6 separate regions of the Homo sapiens genome follow, and regions 1, 2, 3, 4 and 5 are each linked to region 6. The links come from fine-mapping of genetic effects on gene expression. A gene starts in region 6. Each other region holds a variant in brackets. All regions are shown on one strand. Distances are between the middles of the regions.

The links.
Region 1: its variant is fine-mapped to the expression of LMNTD2 in whole blood (TOPMed, PIP above 0.99).
Region 2: its variant is fine-mapped to the expression of LMNTD2 in sigmoid colon (GTEx, PIP 0.97).
Region 3: its variant is fine-mapped to the expression of LMNTD2 in whole blood (TOPMed, PIP 0.95).
Region 4: its variant is fine-mapped to the expression of LMNTD2 in whole blood (TOPMed, PIP above 0.99).
Region 5: its variant is fine-mapped to the expression of LMNTD2 in lymphoblastoid cells (TwinsUK, PIP 0.91).

What each region holds. Positions count from the first base shown.
Region 1 is chr11:527,964-532,046 of GRCh38, reverse strand. It overlaps a transcript of LRRC56 not described here. Among named protein-coding and RNA genes, the nearest start is that of HRAS, 5.6 kb to the left of the region's middle. RefSeq lists an enhancer at 3,005-3,542. The variant A/G (reference allele first, on the strand shown) is at 2,080.
Region 2 is chr11:799,311-803,380 of GRCh38, reverse strand. PIDD1 (p53-induced death domain protein 1) reads left to right here. Exons shown (of 16, transcript NM_145886.4): 3 at 1-207; 4 at 490-699; 5 at 784-838; 6 at 985-1,186; 7 at 1,291-1,416; 8 at 1,757-1,936; 9 at 2,016-2,163; 10 at 2,261-2,396; 11 at 2,469-2,619; 12 at 2,715-2,838; 13 at 2,930-3,048; 14 at 3,137-3,250; 15 at 3,367-3,566; 16 at 3,816-4,070. Among named protein-coding and RNA genes, the nearest start is that of SLC25A22, 3.1 kb to the right of the region's middle. The variant G/A (reference allele first, on the strand shown) is at 2,228.
Region 3 is chr11:594,438-598,516 of GRCh38, reverse strand. It overlaps PHRF1 (PHD and ring finger domains 1), which reads right to left. Exons shown (of 18, transcript NM_001286581.2): 7 at 1,497-1,594; 8 at 947-1,122; 9 at 15-144. Among named protein-coding and RNA genes, the nearest start is that of IRF7, 19 kb to the left of the region's middle. RefSeq lists an enhancer at 2,517-3,016. The variant C/T (reference allele first, on the strand shown) is at 2,482.
Region 4 is chr11:443,052-447,134 of GRCh38, reverse strand. No RefSeq gene overlaps it. Among named protein-coding and RNA genes, the nearest start is that of ANO9, 3.1 kb to the right of the region's middle. RefSeq lists an enhancer at 3,726-4,083. The variant G/A (reference allele first, on the strand shown) is at 1,819.
Region 5 is chr11:654,542-658,624 of GRCh38, reverse strand. All of the region lies in intron 10 of DEAF1 (DEAF1 transcription factor), which reads left to right. It overlaps LOC124902603 (a long non-coding RNA gene), which reads right to left and starts at 3,602. Exons shown (of 2, transcript XR_007062543.1): 1 at 3,058-3,602; 2 at 1-1,651. The variant G/A (reference allele first, on the strand shown) is at 2,102.
Region 6 is chr11:558,566-562,642 of GRCh38, reverse strand. LMNTD2 (lamin tail domain containing 2) reads left to right here and starts at 1,905. Exons shown (of 14, transcript NM_173573.3): 1 at 1,905-1,960; 2 at 3,664-3,787; 3 at 3,877-4,029. The coding sequence starts at 1,927. RASSF7 (Ras association domain family member 7) reads right to left here and starts at 1,673. Exons shown (of 6, transcript NM_003475.4): 1 at 1,166-1,673; 2 at 751-881; 3 at 1-564. The coding sequence starts at 874. LMNTD2-AS1 (LMNTD2 antisense RNA 1) reads right to left here and starts at 3,381. Exons shown (of 2, transcript NR_147607.1): 1 at 3,167-3,381; 2 at 2,537-2,864. RefSeq lists an enhancer at 295-870.

The DNA of each region.
Region 1 (4,083 bases), 31 kb after region 6:
TCTGGACAAGCAGGCAGATCATAAGGACAGAGAGCTTACTGTGCTTCTACCAACTAGGAGGGCGTCCTGGTCCTCCAGAGGGAGGTGGTTTCAGGGGTTGGGGATCTGTGCCGGTGGCTCTGGTCTCTGCTGGGAGCCTTCTTGGCGGTGAGAGGCATCACCTTTCCTGACTTGCTCCCAGCGTGAAATGCACCTGCCAAGAATGGCAGACATAGGGACCCCGCCTCCTGGGCCTTCACATGCCCAGTTTTCTTCGGCTCTGTGGCCTGAAGCGGTCTGTGGACCTTGGAAGTAGGGCTCCAGCACCGACTGGCCTCAGGCCTCTGCCTCATTGGTGGTCGGGTAGCGGCCAGTAGGGCGTGGGAGCCTGGCCATCCCTGCCTCCTGGAGTGGACGAGGTTGGCAGCTGGTCCGTCTGCTCCTGCCCCACTCTCCCCCGCCCCTGCCCTCACCCTACCCTTGCCCCACGCCTGCCTCATGGCTGGTTGCTCTTGGAGCCTGGTAGTGTCACTGGCTCAGCCTTGCTGGGTATACACAGGCTCTGCCACCCACTCTGCTCCAAGGGGCTTGCCCTGCCTTGGGCCAAGTTCTAGGTCTGGCCACAGCCACAGACAGCTCAGTCCCCTGTGTGGTCATCCTGGCTTCTGCTGGGGGCCCACAGCGCCCCTGGTGCCCCTCCCCTCCCAGGGCCCGGGTTGAGGCTGGGCCAGGCCCCTCTGGGACGGGGACTTGTGCCCTGTCAGGGTTCCCTATCCCTGAGGTTGGGGGAGAGCTAGCAGGGCATGCCGCTGGCTGGCCAGGGCTGCAGGGACACTCCCCCTTTTGTCCAGGGAATACCACACTCGCCCTTCTCTCCAGCGAACACCACACTCGCCCTTCTCTCCAGGGGACGCCACACTCCCCCTTCTGTCCAGGGGACGCCACACTCCCCCTTCTCTCCAGGGGACGCCACACTCGCCCTTCTCTCCAGGGGACGCCACACTCGCCCTTCTCTCCAGGGGACGCCACACTCCCCCTTCTGTCCAGGGGACGCCACACTCGCCCTTCTCTCCAGGGGACGCCACACTGGCCCTTCTCTCCAGGGGACGCCACACTCCCCCTTCTGTCCAGGGGACGCCACACTCCCCCTTCTCTCCAGGGGACGCCACACTCCCCCTTCTCTCCAGGGGACGCCACACTGGCCCTTCTCTCCAGGGGACGCCACACTCCCCCTTCTGTCCAGGGGACGCCACACTCGCCCTTCTCTCCAGGGGACGCCACACTCGCCCTTCTCTCCAGGGGACGCCACACTCCCCCTTCTCTCCAGGGGACGCCACACTCCCCCTTCTCTCCAGGGGACGCCACACTCCCCCTTCTCTCCAGGGGACGCCACACTCCCCCTTCTGTCCAGGGGACGCCACACTCGCCCTTCTCTCCAGGGGACGCCACACTCCCCCTTCTCTCCAGGGGACGCCACACTCCCCCTTCTCTCCAGGGGACGCCACACTCCCCCTTCTGTCCAGGGGACGCCACACTCGCCCTTCTCTCCAGGGGACGCCACACTCGCCCTTCTCTCCAGGGGACGCCACACTCGCCCTTCTCTCCAGGGGACGCCACACTTGCCCTTCTGTCCAGGGAATGCCACACTCCCCCTTCTCCCCAGCAGCCTCCGAGTGACCAGCTTCCCCATCGATAGACTTCCCGAGGCCAGGAGCCCTCTAGGGCTGCCGGGTGCCACCCTGGCTCCTTCCACACCGTGCTGGTCACTGCCTGCTGGGGGCGTCAGATGCAGGTGACCCTGTGCAGGAGGTATCTCTGGACCTGCCTCTTGGTCATTACGGGGCTGGGCAGGGCCTGGTATCAGGGCCCCGCTGGGGTTGCAGGGCTGGGCCTGTGCTGTGGTCCTGGGGTGTCCAGGACAGACGTGGAGGGGTCAGGGCCCAGCACCCCTGCTCCATGCTGAACTGTGGGAAGCATCCAGGTCCCTGGGTGGCTTCAACAGGAGTTCCAGCACGGGAACCACTGGACAACCTGGGGTGTGTCCTGATCTGGGGACAGGCCAGCCACACCCCGAGTCCTAGGGACTCCAGAGAGCAGCCC[A/G]CTGCCCTGGGCTCCACGGAAGCCCCCTCATGCCGCTAGGCCTTGGCCTCGGGGACAGCCCAGCTAGGCCAGTGTGTGGCAGGACCAGGCCCCCATGTGGGAGCTGACCCCTTGGGATTCTGGAGCTGTGCTGATGGGCAGGGGAGAGCCAGCTCCTCCCCTTGAGGGAGGGTCTTGATGCCTGGGGTTACCCGCAGAGGCCTGGGTGCCGGGACGCTCCCCGGTTTGGCTGAAAGGAAAGCAGATGTGGTCAGCTTCTCCACTGAGCCCATCTGGTCTTCCCGGGGCTGGGCCCCATAGATCTGGGTCCCTGTGTGGCCCCCCTGGTCTGATGCCGAGGATACCCCTGCAAACTGCCAATCCCAGAGGACAAGACTGGGAAGTCCCTGCAGGGAGAGCCCATCCCCGCACCCTGACCCACAAGAGGGACTCCTGCTGCCCACCAGGCATCCCTCCAGGGATCCCTCATTGTCCACAACTGCTGGAGAACAGAGGGCTCCGTGTCTGGCTGTCCCACAGTGAGCAGCAGTGAGCGCATCTGAAGTCTGAGCTGCTGAGACCCCCTCCTGCAGGAACCCATCTTCTGGCAAAAACCTGAACTGAGGATCACCCTCTGCCCACACCCACAGGGGCCCATCCTGGTGGCTCCTCCAGTGCCAGGCTCTGCCCCATCAGGGTCTGGGGTCTCAGCCAGATTTGTGTCCAGGGCAGGGAGGCTGCAGAGGTTAGGTTGGGTCCAGCACAGGACAGGGCTGGAGAGCACAGCCAAGGAAGGTCGGGTCCGTCTCCTCCCCTCTGACCTCGGACGTCTCGCCTGTCAAATGGCGTGAGTTCGTATCCACCCCACGGGGTCGCCGTGAGGTGAACGAGACAGTCATTTTCATAGTCCGTGTGGAACAGGCACCCGCTGAGTGCTCAGGGATGGCCCTTGGCAGCCACGTGGAGGCCAGCGCAGGCCACCTGTTAGTGACTGTCACCATACCATGGGGGAGGGCAGCTGTGTTGAGACCCACCTCTCACCTCCGGACGCAGAGCCCCCCCTCGGACACCCACTGTGTCTCCAACTGCTCCGCACACAGCCGGCACTTGGCACCGGTGACGTCATGGGGTGGCTGCACACATCACAATAGGGCCCCGCGCAGGTCAGCTGGGCCTGGAGTCAGCGTCCTCCACCCCCTGAACTGGCAGCATGTGTGTGCACGTGTATGTGGGTGAACGTGTGCGTGTGTGTGTTTCTTCTCCAGCTAGGCCTGGCTGCCCCACTAACGTGCACACAGGTCCTTGTCACTGTCACCCCCGTGGCTCGAGACGATCGTCAGAGCACCCGCGGAGGCACCACACTCGGCCCTCTCCACCCGGGGTGGTCCTGGGGATGCAGACGCGGGGAGGGGGTTGGCCCCCTTCCTCGGTGGACTCAGGTCTTCTGTAAAGGGCTGGGTTCAGTGTCCCTCTGTCTCACCTTCTTGAGCCCTGCTGGGTGTCATGAATGTCCCCCCTTGCTGGAGGCCCTGCGGACAAGCCCCCCTGCCTGAGGTCCCCTAGCAGCCAGCTGACCAGGTCCCACTGATTGACAGGCCCTGCTGGGCTGCCGAGGGGGTGGAGGAAGCCTGTGGGGAGGTGGGGGACTCACCTGTGTGACGTCAGCTTCTGTCCCGGGCGCCGCCTGCCCGTCGGATCACATCCCTGCTCAGGACTCGCCACCAGCTGCCTCCTTACGATGGAGTGATGGAGCCCTCTGATAGCTGAGAGTCCGCCACAGCGATCCCACAAGGCCACGCGTAAACTCTCCCAACATCCATCCAGGGAGGCCTGGATAAAAATGTAGAGTTTCAGGCCGGGCACGGTGGCTCAAGCCTGTAATCCCAGCACTTTGGGAGGCTGAGGCGGGTGGATCACCTGAGGTCAGGAGTTCAAGACCAGCCTGGCCAACACGGTGAAACCCTGTTTCTATTAAAAATACAAAAATTGGCCGGGTGCGGTGGCTCACGCCTGTAATCCCAGCCC
Region 2 (4,070 bases), 240 kb before region 6:
GGGCCCTCCCCGCCCTCACCTTCCTCACAGTGACACACAACCGCCTGCAGACGCTGCCCCCAGCACTGGGGGCCCTATCCACCCTGCAGCGCCTCGATCTCTCTCAGAATCTGCTGGACACGCTACCTCCTGAGATTGGAGGCCTGGGCAGCCTCCTGGAGCTCAACCTGGCCTCCAACCGGCTGCAGAGCCTCCCAGCCTCTCTGGGTGAGTAGCCCCTGCGCCCCGACACACTGGCCCCACGGGAGGGTCCCTGAAGCCTGCCTGTCTTCTGCAGGGGCCTCTGCACCCACAGGCTTGGTCCACAGCTGCCTCTTGGTTGTCCCTCCACCTCCCTGGCCTTTGAGACTCCCTCAGTGGCTTTGTCAGAGTTCTCTGAGCCCAGCTGTGGAGGAGAGTCTGAAACAGCTGCTCTGGGAGGCGGCAGCAGGAGTGTCCCAGCGCCGTGGGCTGGGCTGGTGCCAAGCCTAAGCCAGCAACTGCCCGCAGCGGGACTTCGGTCCTTGCGGCTCCTTGTCCTGCACAGCAACCTCCTGGCCTCTGTGCCAGCTGACTTGGCCCGCCTTCCACTCCTCACCCGGCTCGACCTGAGGGACAACCAGCTCCGGGACCTGCCCCCTGAGCTGCTAGACGCCCCCTTTGTGCGCCTGCAGGGGAACCCCCTGGGTGAGGCCTCGCCAGACGCCCCGAGTTCACCAGGTAGGCTTGGTGCTAGAAGGGGCAGACCTGGGATAGGACATGAGTCTCCTCACTGTCCTGAGCACATGTCTGTCCCCTGCACAGTGGCAGCCCTCATTCCAGAAATGCCCAGACTGTTCCTGACCTCAGATTTGGACAGGTATGGGGTGGGTTGAGGGGGCTGGAGGGGAGTCTGTCTGCCTGTCACTCTGGCCCCTCCGACACCTTCTCCAGAGTTCCTGGGTCCAGGCTCCAACACGTAGGCCCTTCTGGGTCTAACCTGTTGCTCGCTCCTTCCTCACTCAGCTTTCCTGTGACCCCTCAAGGCTGCTCAGTGACCCTGGCCTGTGGCGTCCGCCTGCAGTTCCCAGCGGGAGCCACCGCCACCCCCATCACCATCCGCTATCGGCTGCTGCTGCCGGAGCCAGGCCTCGTCCCCCTGGGTCCTCATGACGCCCTGCTCAGCCATGTGCTGGAGCTGCAGCCCCATGGGGTGGCCTTCCAGCAGGCATGGACAGGGCGTGGCGGGGGCAGTGTGTGGGCCAGGGCATGGCAGGGGCAGTGTGCGGGCCCGGGCATGGCTCCAGTGCTCACACCATCCTTGTCTGGCAGGATGTGGGGCTGTGGCTGCTCTTCACCCCACCGCAGGCCCGGCGCTGCCGTGAAGTGGTGGTCAGGACCCGGAATGACAACAGCTGGGGTGACCTGGAGACCTACCTGGAGGAAGAGGCACCCCAGGTGAGGGCCACCCAGGCCTGCCGGTGGCGAGTGGAGAGCTGCTGCCCTGAGCCGTGCACCTCTGCCCAGAGCCTCACCCTGGCACCTTCCACCCTGCCCCGTCCCTCCTGGATCCTGCTTCCCTATGTCCCTGGCACCTTCCACCCCACCCCGTCCCTCCTGGATCCTGCTTCCCTGTGTCCCTGGCAACTTCCACCCCACCCCGTCCCTCCTGGATCCTGCTCCCTGTGTCCCTGGCACCTTCCACCCCGCCCCGTCTCTCCTGGATCCTGCTCCCTGTGTCCCTGACTGGCTGTGCCCTGACCCAGGCTCCTGTGACCTCCTCTCTCCCCCATCCCAGCGGCTCTGGGCTCACTGCCAGGTGCCCCACTTCTCCTGGTTCCTTGTGGTTTCCCGCCCTGTGTCCAATGCCTGCCTGGTGCCACCGGAGGGGACACTGCTGTGCTCCTCGGGTCATCCTGGGGTCAAAGTCATCTTCCCCCCTGGGGCCACTGAGGAGCCTCGTCGAGTCTCCATGCAGGTATGGCCAGGACAGCACTGAGGGTGGCAGGCCGCGCCTCAGCCCACAGGCAGGTGCTCAGGGGGCCTGTCTGCCCCAGGTGGTGCGCATGGCTGGCCGAGAGCTGCAGGCCCTCCTGGGAGAACCAGAGGCTGCAGTGAGCCCCCTGCTGTGCCTGTCACAGAGCGGTCCCCCCAGCTTCCTCCAACCGGTCACCGTGCAGCTGCCTCTGCCCTCTGGCATCACAGGTGAGAGGCAGCCATGGGGCATACCTGGACCTGTGGCCATAGGGTGGAGGGGGTCTCCGGCCAG[G/A]AGGCCTCAGCTCGCTGCCCCTCCCATCCCCAGGCCTCAGTCTGGACCGCTCCCGCCTGCACCTGTTGTACTGGGCCCCTCCTGCAGCCACCTGGGATGACATCACAGCTCAGGTGGTCCTGGAGCTCACCCACCTGTACGCACGCTTCCAGGTCACACACTTCTCCTGGTCAGTGCCCCCCAGCTTTCTCAGCCCCCCTCCCCCAGTCTGTACAGCCCTCCTCACCCCCAGCTCTCCCAGGTACTGGCTCTGGTACACCACCAAGAACTGTGTGGGAGGCCTGGCTCGGAAGGCCTGGGAGCGGCTGCGGCTGCACCGTGTGAACCTCATCGCTCTGCAGCGGCGCCGGGACCCTGAGCAGGTCCTGCTGCAGTGCCTGCCCCGAAACAAGGTGGGGGCACGGGCCGGAGGGCAGCAGGGTGGTGACCAGAGGGCTGGGGTGGGGTGCAGAGCTTTGGGTCCTGAGCTGCACGGGCTTCCCCGCAGGTGGACGCCACCCTTCGGCGGCTGCTGGAGCGGTACCGGGGCCCCGAGCCCTCTGACACGGTGGAGATGTTCGAGGGCGAAGAGTTCTTTGCGGCCTTCGAGCGCGGCATCGACGTGGATGCTGGTAGGGATGCTGGTGGATGCTCCCTGCCCTGGAGGGGGAGCCTTACCGTCCTCCCCGAGCCCTCCTTGCTCAGCCCACCCCTGTCCCCTAGACCGCCCTGACTGTGTGGAGGGCAGAATCTGCTTTGTCTTCTACTCGCACCTGAAGAATGTGAAGGAGGTATACGTGACCACCACTCTGGACCGGGAGGCTCAGGCTGTGCGGGGCCAGGTGGGCGAGGGGAGTGGGTGAGGGGAGAGGCCCCCCAGGCCGCTTGGGCAGAGGACCGAACTCCGAACCCCATTCGATGCCCCTTCAGGTGTCCTTCTACCGTGGCGCGGTGCCTGTGCGGGTGCCCGAGGAGGCTGAGGCTGCCCGGCAGAGGAAGGGCGCAGACGCCCTGTGGATGGCCACTCTGCCCATCAAGCTGCCGGTGGGACTGAGGGACAGCAGAGGGGCGGGGCAGGACCGAGGCCCAGGGGTGACCAGGGTGACATGGTGGAGTTGGGGGTGGAGCCCAGGGCTTAATGCACTTTTTCCTTCCAACAGAGACTTCGAGGGTCCGAGGGGCCACGGCGGGGGGCTGGCCTCTCCTTGGCACCCTTGAATCTGGGAGATGCCGAGACCGGCTTTCTGACGCAGAGCAACCTGCTGAGTGTGGCTGGGCGTCTGGGTCTGGACTGGCCAGCCGTGGCCCTGCACCTGGGGGTGTCCTACCGGGAGGTGCAGCGCATCCGGCACGAGTTCCGGTGAGGCTCCCACTGCCCGCTGGCTGCCAGCCCCAGGGCTGAGCCCTGGCTGCCTGGAGGGCCCACCTGATTCTGACAGAAGTTTCTTCCAGGGGAGGTGGGGGAAGGGCAAACACCAGGCTGGAAAGGAAAGGTCTGGCCGCACCTGGCCCCAGGAGCCGGGAACTCCCCCACACTCCGAGGCAGAGTGTGGTGGGGGGTCCTGGGCAGGTGGACAGGACCCCTCTGTCGCCCATCCTCTGCCTGCAGGGATGATCTGGATGAGCAGATCCGTCACATGCTCTTCTCCTGGGCTGAGCGCCAGGCTGGGCAGCCAGGGGCTGTGGGGCTCCTGGTGCAGGCCCTGGAGCAGAGTGACCGGCAGGACGTGGCTGAAGAGGTGCGCGCAGTCTTGGAGCTCGGCCGCCGCAAGTACCAGGACAGCATCCGACGCATGGGCTTGGCCCCCAAGGACCCCGCTCTGCCTGGCTCCTCGGCTCCACAGCCCCCAGAGCCTGCCCAGGC
Region 3 (4,079 bases), 36 kb before region 6:
CCCTTCAGGCTTACTTGTCTTCCTCTTCCGTCGGGCGGGAGTGCGCGGCGTCAGGGGGCGCTGATACACGGCAGTGCTCAGGCCAGTCGCCACAGCCTCGATGGCTTCATCCAGCAGGGAAGACCCGAGGCGCCCTGGTGTGTGCTACAGGCAAAGGGGTGGTGCCGTCAGATGCCCTTGGGGCCTCAGCCGGTCCAGCACAGACCCCAAATGGAGCCCAGAACACAGCCCACAATGGCAGCCAGAGAAGCAGGACAGCCTCCCCACCCGCCACTGCAGCAGCCACGGCCCGGCCTTCCTCTCCCCTGCCAGAGGCTGCCAAGCACTCCCACGGGGGCAAGGCGGGTGGGGGACAGACAGCATCCCAGGGGCACACGAGAGGGCACCAGTCACTGTGGCGGGGGTGGCGCAGGTACTGGGCAGGGCACTGGACAGGGACAGCCCCCTCCCCACCCAGCCTTCTCAGTCCACTCCAAATTCAGCGTTAGGCTTGCCAAGGGCACACACCACATGCCCACAGCCCAGACCCTCCTGCTTGTCCAATGCCCAGGGAAAGGCTGCTGTCAGGACGGAGGCTGCAGGGAGCACCTGAAACCGAGCACCAGGTCCAGTGCAAGAGGAAGGTGCTCACAGGTGCCTAGAGGGAGCGGTGCTGGCATGGGGCCTGGGGAACAAGGGGGGTTTCCTAGAGCCCCCACCCCGCCAGGGCCAGGCTTCACCTGCCCCTCAATACCTGGCTCCAGGTGCTCAGAGGCAGCCCCACCTTGGGCCGCTGGGGTCACCCTGGGGTGCACTCATCTGCTCCCCTCAGCAGGCCGAACAACATGAGCCACCGGGGCCGGGCGGACCCCACAGTGCCGACGACGCCCCTCCCACCCACCCAGACTGCCGAGATCACTCTGGGCAGCTGGGGTTCTACGACTGGCGTCAGGGCTGGGCCACCCACCTGGACCCTCCTGGCCGTGGAGATCCGGTTCCGGTTCACGGTTGCTCTCACTCTCTCACTCTGCCGTGTCCTGGCTATCGCCCGGGTCCTACCTGCTCGAGGCCGAAGCCTGCTGGTGGTGGGCACCACATCAGCCAAGAGCAGGGAGACCTCCTCCTCACTCACGGGACCCGCATCTGGGAAGAACCACCAGGGCTGATGTGCCACACTCACAGGCCACACGCCTCCCCCAACGGCTCCCCCTGTGGCTGCCGGCCAAGTAGCAGCCCTGGCTCGGGCTGACCTGTGCACAGGACCCAGGGCTGCTCATGGAGCCTGGTGCTCCTAACACTGAGGACCGGAACCCCCCAGCCAATGGACCCCACACACATCCCCGAGAAGACGAGCCCGAGACAGCCCTAGATGTCCTCCCGACACCGCAGCCAACCCTAACCCCCATGAGACAGCCCTAGATGTCCTCCCCACACAGCAGCCAAACCTAACCCCGGGGACCGCAGAGTGGACAGTGAGAAGGCCCATGTGCGCCTTGGGACGGGAGCAGTGTCCTTACCAGCGGCAAGGACAACACCAGGCGCAGCACATTCCGGGCAGAACCACTCGTCCACCGGCACCTCCTGGAGAGGGGGGTCCAAGCATTCCATGTGGTACCTACAGGAGAGAGCAGGGCCAAAGCATCCGGGTGCTGCTCACAGCTTTCCCAAACCTCCTCAAGTGAGGGGACCACAAAGCAGGCCTCCGATGGCACCCAAGTCTGCGATGCATTCTGTTATGGGCTGACCCACATCCCTCCAAAATTCATAAGAAGCCCTAACCCCCAATGTGACAGCAGATAGACATGGAACCTTTAAGGTTATAGGATTGGTGTCCTTAGATGAGGGAAGGCCAGGTGAGGTCACAGCGGGGAGGCGGCCGTCTGTAAGTCAGGAAGGGGGCCTCCCCAGGAACCAGGCCTGCTGGTATCTCAGATGTCTAGTTTCCAAAACCAAGAAAAGGAAGACCTGCGGTTTACGCTGCCCAGCCTGTGGTATCCTGACAGCAACTGAGCTGGCTGCGACACACGACACACACCCACAGGCCGACAGTGGCTCACACTGAGCTCCTGCGGTAGGTGCTGCCTGTGGGGCCCCCTTCCCAGAGAGCTTGTCTCCCCCACCCTCACTCCCGGGTTTTCAAACATTGCACCTCACACCAAGCCACTGAAGAAGGCGAAGGTTTCTTTGCTGAAAGGAAACTATGTTTTAATTGTTTCTATCGAGCCTTCTGGGAAGGTAGTTTGGGAAGTGCTGCCACTGGTATGAGGTATATGTGCCCCTCCAAGCAGCCGAGGCTCGGGAGTCTATGCAAAGATCCTTGAAACTTCATCCCAAAGACCCCAGACAGCCCTGAGTAAGGCAAAAACAATCAAGGGAAGGGAGTCAAGCTGATGATTTCCCTGAAAATTGAGCCTGAATTCAACTGAACTTAACTACCACTTACCACGGGCTGAACTGTTCTAGGATCTAAGATACGAGTTAAACAAGAGTAAACCCATTCTC[C/T]CAAGAGTCCTGCACCTATGAGAAGGTGTCTGCTGTGTGGCCCTTGCTAGGGCCATACAAGAAAGACAGGAGACAGGCATGCAGGAAGAGAAGCCGACTGCCCCGGGCACACGACACGCCCTGCCAGGCCAGCAGAGGGGGGCGGCGGGTGGGGGCACTCCAAGAGCCTAACTAGGTCCCCTAACATCTGTTCTTATACAAGTTCTCTGGGGACAAAGGCAAGGATGAGCAGTACCTTCTTTCAAAGAATTCCAAAGTCTGAAAACGTCCAACCCACTTTCCCACCACTGAGCTCCAGCAGCCTTGGAGGAGGCTGCGGCTCACCTGAGGCCCGAGCAGAAGGCCCCTCTGCGCCTGGCAGGCGCCCATCCACAGCCAGGCCAGGCCTGTGTCCCCCACACTCATCCCCGAGAAGAGGAGATTGGCTGCAAGTTTAAATACGAGCACGGGGACAAGGAGGGCTGCCGAGACCTGCCCAGCTACGGTGCAGGCACCCATGGCTCCACCTGCACAGGGAGCTTGGTGGCCCTGCAGCTGAAGGTGCTCAGATCTGACCTGCCCAGGGAGGGGAGGGCCACACCTAACAGGCCTCAGTGAGCCCCTGCACTGCCTCCCTGGTGAACACACACTTTTAAATTAGATTGTAACTTAAAAAAGAAAAAAATCAGAAACTGTATCTTATTTCATGTAATGTCAGTGTATCTACAGATAGTGTTTTTTTGTTTTTTGTTTTTAGTCTCTCTGGAGTGCAGTGGCGCAATCTCGGCTCACTGCAACCTCCGCCTCCCAGGTTCAAGGTATTCGCGTGCCTCAGCCTCCCAAGGATCGGGGGTTACAGGTGTGAACCACCACGCCCGGCCAATTTTTTTATTTTTAGTAGAGACGGGGTTTCGCCATGTTGGCCAGGCTGGTCTCGAACTCCTGAGCTCAGGTGATCCACCCGCCTCGGCCTACTGTGATTCCATTTTGACATGAGGAACTGAGTAATTTTAGACGTGTGATTTTTAAGTCAGACTTAACTGAAAATTTGGCAGACTGCAAATTGTAACAGTATGGAAATGTTTAGAAGTATGAGAATCGTTATATTGATCAGTTTTAATGTTTTAGATCCACCAGGGTTTTTATGTACTTGCGTTGTTTTATCTGCCAAGTAATTCAAGTAGTGTAGGTAGAAAGAAAATCAATATATCAAGTTTGTAAATGTAATTTATAATAAAAAATTTTAATTAAGCTGTAAACATTCCCAAGAGCCTTGTTAGAAGGTACTACAACTAGGTTGGGCATAGTGGCTCACGCCTTTAATCTCAGCACTTTGGGAGGCCGAGGTGGGCGGATCAATTGAGCCCAGGAGTTCCACACCAGTCTGGCCAACATGGTGAAACCCCGTTTCTCCATAAAATACAAAAATTAGCCAGGTGTGGTGGCATGTGCCTGTAATCCCAGCTACTGAGGAGGCTGAGGCAGGACAGTCACTTGAACCTTGAACCGAGGTTGCAGTGACTCGCTGCAGAGGTTGCAGTGACTCGCTGCAGAGGTTGCAGTGAGCCAAGATGGCGCCACTGCACTCCAGCCTGGATGACGGACCAAGACTCTGCCTT
Region 4 (4,083 bases), 120 kb after region 6:
CTGCAGAAGTGCACACCCCTCCCCACCCAGGCATGTGTGGACTGGCAGAGTCCATTGCAAGACGTGGGCCTGAGGGGCAGGGGTGAGGCCGGAGGTTTGTGGCTCAGGGAGCACCGTGGCTGGTGAGGAGGCAGTGGAGCAGCTTGGAGGACTTGGTTCTTTGAGGCCCCAGAGCAGCAGAACTGGGGGTCCCCCGCCTGGGGAAGGGTGCACGGGACAGAAGCCTTCCTCAGCTGCAGAGATGCCTGCCAGAAGCCTCAGGGCGCTGGAACTTTTAAGAAAATGGTCAATTCTGGCCTTACCCAGGGACAGAGCTGGCCAGAGTCACATTTATGGTGGTAAATAGTGAATGTTGGCGAAATGCTTTCTAAAAATGCCCTTGCAAGGAAGGGAGAGGAAGCCTAGGAATTTGTAAAGTAACAAATGCCTGTTGTAATATTTCCCCTGGTGCGGTAAATCCATAAAGGTGAGTGGATTACAGAAAAACTCACCGTGCCACACGCACACCTGTGCCCGGGAGTTTTCTCTGGCTTGTTGGAGGGAGCGTGGACAGCAGGACTGCTCCCCAAGTCAAGATGGTTAAGGCCTGGAGGTGTTGGGGAGGCAGCAAGGAGACAGAGTTGTCCCTGCAATGAGGACGGGAGGGGTTTGGGTCCCCACCCCAATGCCACCCTGGTGTGGCAGGCAAGGATGGCTTCAGGTGGTCCTCAAGGGCAGAGGCCCAGCTGGGAGAGGGTCTCCCCTGCAGGGGCTTCAGGCTGGGGGTCGCCTGCCAAGCACTGTCAGCCAAGAGAGGCTGGAGCCAGCAGGGTGCCTGAGACCAGCCCAGAGAGAGTACAGGGGCAGGTTCTCAGAGGCACCGACTCCAGCTGACCCAGAGGGGCTGCCTCTGAGCAGTGCCTGGACGAGTCTGCTCGTCCAGACACTGTGTCTGTGTCTGTGGCCGCGCCCAGGAGGCTGTTGGGGGCGGGGGGGGAGGACAGGTCTCTGAGGGGCCCAGGGCAAAGGTAATGACAATTGGTGCTCACACCTGCCTGTGGGATTTCACCTGGGCGCTCCCTAGCTCTCGCTGGCTTTGTCACCCGGACCGCTCCACGGGTGGCTGCCATATCCCACAGTTAAAAGGAGGCTGCAGGGACGGAGGAGCTGCCTCTGCTGCATGTTGGGCCTCAGGGGGAGGCGGTCTGGTGGACGGGGTCTTCTGAAGTGGGAGGAGGAAAGGCAGAGGAACAGGGTCCAGGGTCCACAGAGGAAGAGCAGGAGGCCCACGGGGAACCTCGACCAAAGTTCTCTGCCAAGGCAGGGCAGGGCCACCTGCCAGGACGTCCAGGCCAAACTCTTGCCTCTTCAGGAGCTGCACTCAAACCCGGAAGCCAAGAGTCAAGCTGAGTCTGGGGGAAATAAAGTTTATAATAATAGACTTGAATGTGGAAAAATAAAGCAAATTTAATAAGTTTATTAAAGTGTGATGTGTTTGTGTTAGAATATTTGAAAACAAACATAATGAAGAAAAGCATAATACCCCATCCTTAGTTCACATTGTTAAGCAAATGTAAGTATCAAATATCAGTCTACTCTTCCCATATTTTAATGCCCCTTAGCTACGTTTACATAAACATTTTATACATGTTTGTGATAGGAGCATCAAACCACCATGGCACACGTTTACCTGTGTAACAAACCTGCACGTTTTGCACACGTATCCTGGAACTTAAAGTAAAAGAACATTAAAAAAAAATTAATCTCCGCCAAGTGCAGTGGCTCATGCCTGTTATCCCAGCGCTTTGGGAGGCCGAGGCGGGCGGATCACCTGAGGCC[G/A]GGAGTTCAAGACTAGCCTGACCAACATGGTGAAACCCCGTCTCTACAAAAAATACAAAATTAGCCGGGCGTGGTGGTGCATGCCTGTAATCCCAGCTACTTGGGAGGCTGAGGCAGGAGAATCATTCGAACCCAGGAGGCGGAGGTTGTGGTGAGCCGAGATCCTGCCACTGCACTCCAGCCTGAGCAACAGAGCAAGACTCCGTCTCAAAAAATAAAAAGAATAAATAAATCTCTTTTAATCTAGGAAAAATTTTTATATGTTTGTAGTCTGTTTTTTTTACTTAGCAGTATAACATAAGCATTTTCCTATGTTCTCAAAAACTCTTTGAAAGTATAACTTCTAATGTCTGCTTAATCAGCATATAAATATGAATACCATGTTTTCGCTGATATTTTCCTATTGTTGAACATTGGTGGTTTACAATTTTTGCTGCAAATGACATATATACATATTTTCATTATTTTGCATTTTTTTAGAACAGTTTACAAAAAGTTAGATTAATGAACCAAAGTCTAAACAATTTTAAGGCTCTTAATACGTATTATAGCTGAATTGCTTTCTGAAAGGGCTGTACTGGTTTTCTGTCCAGATAGGACTGGGTGGGGTCCCCCTCCCTCTCCACCCTTCACTGATCGTAAGGGAACTTCCACGCTGGGTGAGGCCAGCGGCCAATGCAGCCGCCTCGCTGAGCTCTCTCCCCTGAAGCTGGATATGCTGGCTTTACAGCCAGGACTCTGGAAGTGACTGAGGATTCCTCTGGTGACGCCCACGGAAGGTGTGGGGGGAGGAGGAACAGTGTTTCTGCAACGCAACTGGGAATGCTGAAAAAGTCATTGAAAGAGAGCACAGCAGCTGTGTGGACACTTGAAGTGGCGCCTGAGTAACTCACATGACCTGCTAGCAGATTGTTTTAACACACTGAAAACGTGGAGATTGTTTTATTATTTATTTATTGATTTATTTATTTTGAGACGGAGTTTCACTCTGTCACCCAGGCTGGAGTGCAGTGGCACGATCTTGGCTCACTGCAACCTCCACCCTCCGGGTTCAAATGATTCTCCTCCCTCAGCCTCCTGAGTAGCTGGGATTACAGGCGCCTGTCACCACGCCTGGCTAATTTTTTGTATTTTTAGTACAAATGGGGTTTCACCATCTTGGCCAGGCTGGTCTTGAACTCCTCACCTCGTGATCCACCCACCTCTGCCTCCCAAAGCTCTGGGATTACAGGCATGAGCCACCGCACCCAGCCGAAGATTGTTTTAACACAGTGTGAAAACATGAGCACAGAGACCCCTGAGCGGGCTGAGCTGGGGACTGGGGAGCGACACCCGTCACGGACGGTGCAGGGGCTGGGAACGTGGATCTTGCGTGTGAGTTCCTCCCATACTCAACAAGCCTTGCACATTCTGTTTCTGAACTAGATCTAACTTGGCAGCTGTGACCCCCTGGTGAGACTGCCGGATGTTCCCTCTCCCGCTTACCCTGCTTTCTTCCATGGGAAAAGAGCTCACATGCCCCAGGCTTCCTTGCCATAGAGTGTGGTCACGTGACTAACCATGTGAAGGGTGAGGTTCCCTCCTTCGCCCTTTCCTCTTCCCACTGGCTGGAACGTGGATGTGATGACTGGAGCTTGAGCAGTCATTTTGGACCAGGTGCTGGGACCATGTATTTAAGGTGGCAGAGCAACAAGCTGAAGGCATTCTGGGTCTCTGATGACTATAGTTCGGCCATACTAGTCCAGGACTAGCCAACTCCAGATTTTTGTTTTGCTTTGTTTTAAAGACAGAGTCTTACTCTGTCACCCAGGCTGGAGTGCAGTGGTGTGATCTTGGCTCACTGCAACCTCTGCCTCCCAGGTTCAAGCGATTCTCCTGCCTCAGCCTCCCGAGTAGCTGGGATTACAGGCGTGCACCACCATACCTGGCTAATTTTTGTATTTTTAGTAGAGACGGGGTCTCACCATGTTGGGCAAGCTGGTCTCGAACTCCTGACCTCAGGTGATCCACCCGCCTCGGCCTGCCAAAGCGCCGGGATTACAGGCATGAGCCACTGCGCCCGGCCAACTCCAGATTTCACTTATAGGAGAAATACACAGCTTGTTTAAGCCACCACCATTTTGCACACAGATCTGAATGTGTTCCATTTGGATTTGCCCCATCTGAGCTCACAGGTCCTCGGCCACCACTTCACTCGCTTGTCTTTGCCAAAGTGGCAAAGCTGTGGTCTCTGCTGCCATCCCAGCCTGCCAGGAGGTCCCCCAA
Region 5 (4,083 bases), 96 kb before region 6:
TGGGGCGCCTGGGCAGGCCTGGGCACTTCTGCCCTTTGTGCCATCCGCAGTCCTGTGATTTCCTGACAGTTTCCTGAAAGCGCAGAATGGGACTTGTCGATGTCCTTGGCTGCGGAAACGCGGTGTCTTGTCCTAACCTTCTGCAACGCACACACACCTCTTCCGCAGTAATGAATGGTTTTTTGTTTTTGTTTTTGAGACAGAGTCTAGCTCTGTCACCCAGGCTGGAGTGCAGTGGCGCGTTCTCGGCTCACTGCAAGCTCCACCTCCTGGGTTCATGCCATTCTCCTGCCTTAGCCTCGCGAGTAGCCGGGAGTACAGGCACCCGCCAACACGCCTGGCTAATTTTTTTGTATTTTTAGTAGAGACAGGGTTTCACCGTGTTAGCCAGGATGGTCTCGATCTCCTGACCTCGTGATCCGCCTGCCTCAGCCTCCCAAAGTGCTGGGATTACAGGCGTGAGCCACCGTGCCCGGCTAATGAATGGTTATTTTAAAAAATAAACGTATTTCGGGATAATTTTAGGTTTACAGAAAAGTTGCAAAGTGAGCGCAGAGGGTCCCTTCTGCCACTCCGCAGCCTCCCCTCTGTAACTTCAAAGCCCACAGGGCATGGCTGTTGTAGCTGAGAAACCGTCGCTGGGTGTCCCTGTGAACTCCGGACTTTGAATTTCACTATCAATGTCCTGTTTCTGCTCTAGGACCTTGTCCCCGCTGCCACCTGTGGGAGACAGCCTCCCGTGCACCATTTGCCCAGCACCCTCAGGCCTGTGACGGTCTCTCAGTCTTTCCTTGTCTTCCATGCCCTGCAGTTCTGAGAGGGCCTGGCCAGGCAGTTTGTCCAGGTGCCCCGATCCAGGCTTGTCTTGTGCTTTCTCGTGGGGGTGGACGACAGGTTTCAGGGAGGGGTGCTGCCGCCTGTCTCACCCCACTGTGGCGTCCCTGACATCCAAGTGACATTACAGACAGCTCTGACCTTCCTCACCAGAGTCAGGTGTCTGTAGGTGTCTCCTTGGTGACAGGACTGCTTCTCCCTTTGCACATTTAGTCAGGCAGCAAGTCCACGGCCGTGGGGGGGCTTCTCCTAGACGGGAGGATCTGGAATAGCTTGGACTTGTATTTATTTATTTGATCATTTGTTTGTATCCGGATGGGCTCATTTTATATGTGTTTTAAACTCTGAGCTAGAAGGCAACACTACTTTCTTGTGAAGCACACCATCTGTCCTTGGCCCTAGGGAGCTCCTGCCGTCGGCTCCTGGGTCCCCTGATGCACCCCTTTCAACAGACTTTTCATTTTGGGGTACGTCCTGACTTCCTGGCACTGCAGGGTGCTCCAGCCTCCTCTTGCATTCCCTGCCCTGGCCCGGGAATCAGCCCCTTCTCCAAGGAGCCCCGGGTCCTTTTATTGGCAAGTCTTAAGAGAGTGAGGCCTGGGTGCCAGGCAGGGAGCCCCAGGTCCTTTTATTGGGAAGTCTTAGAGAGTGAGGCCTGGGTGCCAGGTGGGTGCCAGGTGGGTCCGGTGCTGCTGGGATGTTGTCACGTGGAGGCCCTCAGCTGCAGAGCAGGGACGAGGGTGTCACCTGTTCAGCTGCAGAGCAGGGATGAGGGTGTCACCTGTGTGTATGAACATCTCCGCAGCCACTTCTGTATCTGTGAAGAGAACATGAGTTCATGCTACTGCCTCTGACTCTAATTCAGACCCCAAAGCTCCTTCTAACCTTCCTAGAACGTTATTTTTCAGTTTAAAAAAAAAAAAAAGTTTTGCAAAGGGCATACCGCGAAAGGCCCAAGTGGTTGAAAGTCCCAGCTGAGGCTGAAGAGGCGCCTGCGAGGCAACAGGACAGGCTTCCCGTTCAGTTCAGGGGTGCTGTCCTCCAGGAACTATGCTGGGGGGCAAGTACAGGACGTCCTGGTGTGTGGTGCACAGGGACTGCTGGACACGGAGACCCGTGCCCTTCTCAGCGTGGGGGCCGCTCCCCGGGACAGTGACCACGCTCCCGCCAGCCTCCCACCCCACCTGACCTCTGTCTGTGAGGGGCTGGACCAGGGTCCTGCCTGGCCCGGCCATCCACAGAGCAACCCAGAATGTTAATAAAGCCT[G/A]CAGAAGCTGTGTTCTCCTTCGAGAAGCTTCTCTGTGGTTACAGACTTTTTAAGAAATATTTTGTCGGCTGGGCTTGGTGGCTCATGCCTGTAATCCCAGCATTTTGGGAGGCCAAGGCAGGCGGATCACCTGAGGTCAGGAGTTTCCGAGACCAGCCTGGCCAACAGGGCAAAACCCCGTCTCTACTAAAAATACAAAAATTAGCCAGGCATGGTGGCAAGCGCCTATAATCCCAGCTACTTGAGAGGCTAAGGTGGAAGCATTGCTCGAATCTGGAAGGTGGTGGTTGCAATGAGCTGAGATCGTGCCACTGCACTCCAGGCTGGGCGACAGAGCGAGACTCCATCTCAAAAAAAAAAAAAAAGTTTGTCATTTAAAGTAGAGGCACAGGCCAGGCGCGGTGGCTCATGCCTGTAATCCCAGCACTTTGGGGGGCCGACTCAGGTGGATCATTTGAGGTCAGGAGCTCGAGACCAGCCTGACCAATATGGTGAAACCCCATCTGTACTAAAAATACAAAAAAATTAGCCAGGCGTGGTGGTCCGTGCCTGTAGTCCCAGCTGTGGGGAGGCTGAGGCACAAGAATCACTTAAACCCAGGAGGTGGAGGTTGCAGTGAGCCGAGATTGCGCCACTACACTCCAGCCTGGGCGACAGAGTGAGACTCCATCTCAAAAAAATAATAATAATAATAAATAAATAAAGTAGAGGCAGGGGGCAACCTAAATTAGCACCAAAATTCCTCCTAATGCTCCTGTTTTCTGAAGTGAGTGACTGAATGTCGGAGCTCTGAATGTCTTACAACTGGAAAAATGTTAAAGATCACGTTTGCGAAGGAGGGAGGCAAGCATCAGAACAGAACCTCGGAGCAGGTCTGCACGCGTGCAGGGGCCGTGGGGCCGCGCTGGAGTCGTTTCCTGTGCTGCTCTGTGCTGCTCACAGACGCTGCCACTCACCCACTGGCCACGGCCCCTCCCGCAGCTGCGGATGATCTGGGCGCATAGCGGGCGTGCAGGTCGCGGCGCCAAGGCCTCTCCTAGGCCCAGTGGTCTTCTCCGTCTCAGAGAGCATTGACGGCGGAGCTCACAACTGTCAAGCACCTTAGTCATGCCGCAAACATTAATCATTGACAGCATGTTGACCTATGCGCTGATTAAAAAGAAAAGCTCCAATAATGTAATTCCAGGAGAAAGTACACAAACCTCTGGTGGCATCTTTTCAATCCACCACAGAAACCAGCTCAGGTGGGGCCGTGGGGGTGTTGGCTGGGGCACCGCCGCAGCAGTTTGGGACACATGCCTGCCACGGTGCGCCCAGGCTGATGCCCACAGCCCTGCTCAGGAGTGTTGGGAGCGGTGGACTCCTGAGTTTGATTTTCTGTGCTGGCCTGGCTGGAGTGAAGCTCCTTGGAGTTTGGAGAAAGATTTCCATGCTGATTTCCCTTTGTTTTTGTTTGTTTGTTTGTTTGTTTGTTTTGGAGACAGTCTTGCTCTGTCGCCCAGGCTGGAGTGCAATGGTACAATCTCGGGGTTTCACCGTGTTAGCCAGGATGGTCTCGATCTCCTAACTTCGTGATCCGCCCACCTCAGCCTCCTAAAGTGCTGGGATTACAGGCATGAGCCACTGCATCCGGCCCTGATTTCCCTTTTTTTTTGAGATGGGAGTCTCGCTCTGTCACCCAGGCTGGAGTGCAGTAGTGCAATCTCGGTTCACTGCAACCTCCGCCTCCTGGGTGCAAGCTATTCTCCCACCTCAGCCTCCCAGGTAGCTGGGATTACAGGTGGCCACCACCACACCCAGCTAATTTTTGTATTTTTAGTAGAGACTGGGTTTCGCAACGTTGCCTGTGCTGAACTCCTGACCTCAGGTGATCCACCCGCCTCGGCTGCCCAAAGTCCTGGGATTACAGGTATGAGCCGCTGCTCCCGGCCCATACTGGTCTTCCAGTGAATGAATGTAGGGGGCAAACTGCACTGAGGCCA
Region 6 (4,077 bases):
GCCCAGGGGCCTCCGCTGCCAGCTGCAGCTCAGCCTCCAGGGCACGGGCCTGAGCGTCCAGGGCCTGCAGCCGGGCGGCATGCTCAGCAGTGGCCGCACTTAGTGCCTGCAGGCGTGCCTGTCCCTCTCGCTCCCGGGCCTGCTCCCGGCGCAGCTCTTGCTCCCAGAAGGCCTCATGGCCCAGCTCCTCAGCATTCCTCTGCACCCTGAGCTCCAGGCCCCGCAGGTCTGTGCAGCAGCCTGGTGTGGGTGTCACAGGGGCCGCAGGCCCAGGGCGTGAGAGGCTGGGGGCTGGCTCGGGGGTCAGTGTTTTGCGGGGCTCACAGCCCAGCGCAGCCCGTGGCTTTACAGGGAGGCTGGCACGAATTAGGCAGCGTTCCGGGGGTGGACAGCTGTCTGAGGAGGGCCTCCCAGCTAGGCTGGGCCCTGTGCGCCTCAGGACAAACTGGACATCGCTGGCAAACTGTCCGCAGGTGGCCTGGGCGCCCACTGGACACTCTTGTGGCAGCAACTGCCGCTCCTTCTCCCGAAGCCGCTGCACAAGCACAAAGCGGCCAGTCTGGCCTGGGAAGAAGAGGAGAAGGTCAGCCTATGTCCCCCCGACTCTCTGTCCACCTGGCTTGAAGAGTTGGGAAGAACAAAAAGGATCAGCAACCAGCCCCACTCTCCTTGGGGGAGACCATGGAGCTGGACCACCAGGTCCCACTTCAGCTCTACCTGCCCGGCCTGCCTGACCCCGAGAGGACTCACCTATTGCTTGGGCTAGTGCGATGACCACTTCCTGGCAGGTGGTCTGCTCTGAGACCCCACAGACCACACGCTGGATGCCATCCACCCACACCTTCAGCTCCATGGCCGCCAGTCCCAACAACATGCCTGTCCTGTGGGGAGGGCGCAGGCACCGGGTCAGGACCTGCCTACTCCTATCGCAGGCTGGTCCTCCTCTCCTCATCCTCTTGGCCTGCCCTAGAAACGGCTGGGCTGCCGCCCCTCCGCACGGGCCCCACCCTCCTGTGCCAGCCCCACCCGCCAGCCACACATTCCTGGGGTGGCGGCCCTCCGGAGCACGCATCCTCCCCCACTTCACCAGCTTCCTCTTGCCACGCTCGCACTCCCGGAACAAGGCGAATCATTAACCAGATCCAGCATTTCCTACTCGCCTCACCTGGCTCGGAGGACACTGCCCCCTCCCCGGGCGGCGCGGAGGCGCCCGCACGCCAGGCCCCGCGGCCGCCGGCATGGGAACGCCCCACCCCGACCTGCTCAGGCCGCAGAGGCGCTCGGGGTCGCAACCCAGACCTCGACCCTGCAGATGGAGCAGACTCCGGGTCTGAGCAGCCCCCGCCAGCCCGGGGAGCCCCGCCGCTGCCGCCTAATCGCTGCGCTCGCCCCGAAAGTCCCGGTCCCCGCCGCGGGCACCGAAGCCCGCGCCGCGACCCCAGCCTGGCGGGAGCCAGGGCGTCCCCGTTCCGCAGGGCGGGCGCAGGTGCGGCGCCGCCCCCGCTCTCCGTCCGGGCATCGCGGAAAACTCTCCCCAGTTGGAGTCGGCGTCCGGCCGGCTCGAGGCGCGCCCCGCGCTCCCAAGTACCGGGGACCCGGCGCGGCTCACCTGGGCGCTCGCCAGCCTGGAGACCCGCTCCGGCGCCGCCGCAACCTGCCGCCCCCAGCGCCGCGGCGCACCCGGGCCCCGCGCCCCCATTGGCCCGCGGTCCGCACGCCCCGCCCCTAGCACCCCTATTGGCTGCTCAGCGCGGGCGTTCCGCCCCCTCCCCGCGCCCATTGGCTGCCTCTGTCACGCCCCTCCCCGACCCATTGGCTCGTCGCCGCGCCCCGCCCCCCCCGAGACTACAGGTGTGGGCGGGTCGGAGGGGGGCGCCGAGCCGCAGTCCCCGCCCCCACCTCCCGCCTACCGCGAAAAACGCGGAAATGCGGTGGCTGCGGCCCGCGGGCAGGCGTCGGGGTAGGTGTCTGGCCCCGCTCCTGGGCCGACTTCCTCAGCAGCCTTCTAGTGTGGCGGGTTCCCGCCCAGGAAGGGTCTCTGGCTTGAGATCCCGCAACCCCCGCCTGCGTCCAGGGGCAGCGGGGCCAGCCCCTCCCCTCGCTTCCCGGGCCAGCCTTTGGGGCCTACCGCAGCTGCAGTAGTCTGGACGCGCAGGGGTCGCGGGGTCGCAGGGTCACCAGTCCCGGCGAGGGAGGTGGAGCCCTGCGGAGCTGGCGGGCGCAGAGTCCTGGTGCGGGAGGTGCCCGCTCAGAAGGCCCGGACTCTAGCTGAGGCTCTTCTCCGACACCTTCCTGCCCCTTTTGGACCCAGTGCCAGGCCATGCACACAGTGAAGCTGGCTGGAAGCCGCTCCTTCACCCCCTACCCTACTGTCCCGCCCAGGGCCCCGCAGCCTCGCGGTCAGCTGTGTGGGCCATTGATTGTTCTGCCCAGCTCAGAAAGAGTTGTGGGCGTGGGCCTCCTGCCCGCCTGTCTCCTGTGCTCCCCCAGGGAGCCCTTACATAGCCGAAAGTTGCAGAGATGAAGGGTGAAAGCTGGAATGATTGGGTTTTAATGGGTCAGGTCTGGGACCTGGCTTTTCTCCTGGAGCAGAGGGAATACTTGTCATGGTAATGGGGTAGCCCAGAGGGTGTGGACACGGCTGGGAAAAGTGAGGCTTCAGTTTGGGGGTCAGGTAGGTGAGTGCCTGTCACTGAGGTCAAAGGAGCTGTGGGCTGGGCCTGGCGGTGGAGGCGGGTGCCTGTAGTTTCAGCAAGTCAGGAGGCGGAAGTGGGAGGATCACCTGAGCCCAGGAATTCGAGGTTAACGTGCGCTGTCATCACACCGAAGCATTCCAGCCTGGACAGCGGAGCAAGACCCTGTCTCTAAAGAATTAATTATTAATTTAAAAACAGGCTGTGGGCAGGAGTGTACTATTGCCAGTTAGCGTTCAGCACAGTCCCCAGCTTGTCACTGTTACCTGTCTGCTTCCCCCACACACCCATGGCTATGCTGGGCTGGCTCACAGGCAGCAGTGCCCCCCTATTTATCCCGCTGCTGCTGCCAGGCTAGGTAGGGGATGCTGGGGCCTCCCTCAGGGTGTTGGTCACTAAGTGGTCCCCCCGCTAAGCTGAGCAGTGGCTCAGCCTCTCACACCTCCTCCAGGCTGGGCTGGCCCAGAACTCACCTAGGGGCCTGGTCTGGGGTCTCCCTGGAGGCTCCTGGTAACAAACAGCCCCACCCCTTCTGGGTGCTGGTATCCATGGCAACGGTATACAGCCCTTCCCTCCCAGGCCTGCTTGGAGGTCGGGCCTCAGGTGAGTGCTGGGGGTAGGGCCCTGAGCTGGGGGGACAAGAGAGAGAAAGAGGGACACCACATCACAGGCAAAGGGCCAGCACCTGGGTGGCAGGGGTACACGCCAGGGACATGTCGGGTGGTGACCTGCTGCGCCAGCCTGGTCAGAAACACACGGGTGTGGACACCCACATGTGGGTCCCTTCAGAGAGCAACGCTCTGTGAGTAAGTGGTGACGCCTGGGCTGCTCCAACCTGTGTGGCCACACGAGGCGCACACGGCAGACGGGCCCCCCACCCCTCCCAGCTCCCGAAGAACATTGAGAATGGCCCCCAAGTCTGGCCAGGAGGTTGAAGAAACCGAGGAAGAGGCTCTCCTGTCCCCCACAGAGCAAGAGTCGGTCAGTGGTCACCTGGGACCTCCAGCAGGCGCACCTGCAGCCCCCGAGACTCCCACGTGCCTGCCAGACACCACGCCCCACCCCGCACCGGTGGTCTGCTCTGCCGACCCGCAGTAAGGAGGAGAGGGAGGACTGGTGAGCCTCCTGGGCCAGGTGGCCAGGGGCCGGCCTGAGTAAGCAGCAGGGTCTGCTGCCGCTGCAGGTTGGCTCTTGAGTCCCTGGACCCTCGCACACTGCGGCTGCTGTGGAGACAGCGAGAACTGGAGATCCAGGCCTTGCGGTGGGCCATCCAGAATGGCGAGGACGCCCGGCTCTGCCACATCCTGGAAGAGGTGGCGGGGCTTCCGCCCAAGAGGTCTGCAGCACAGTCCCCAGCCCAACCCAACCCCGCCCTGTCCTCGCC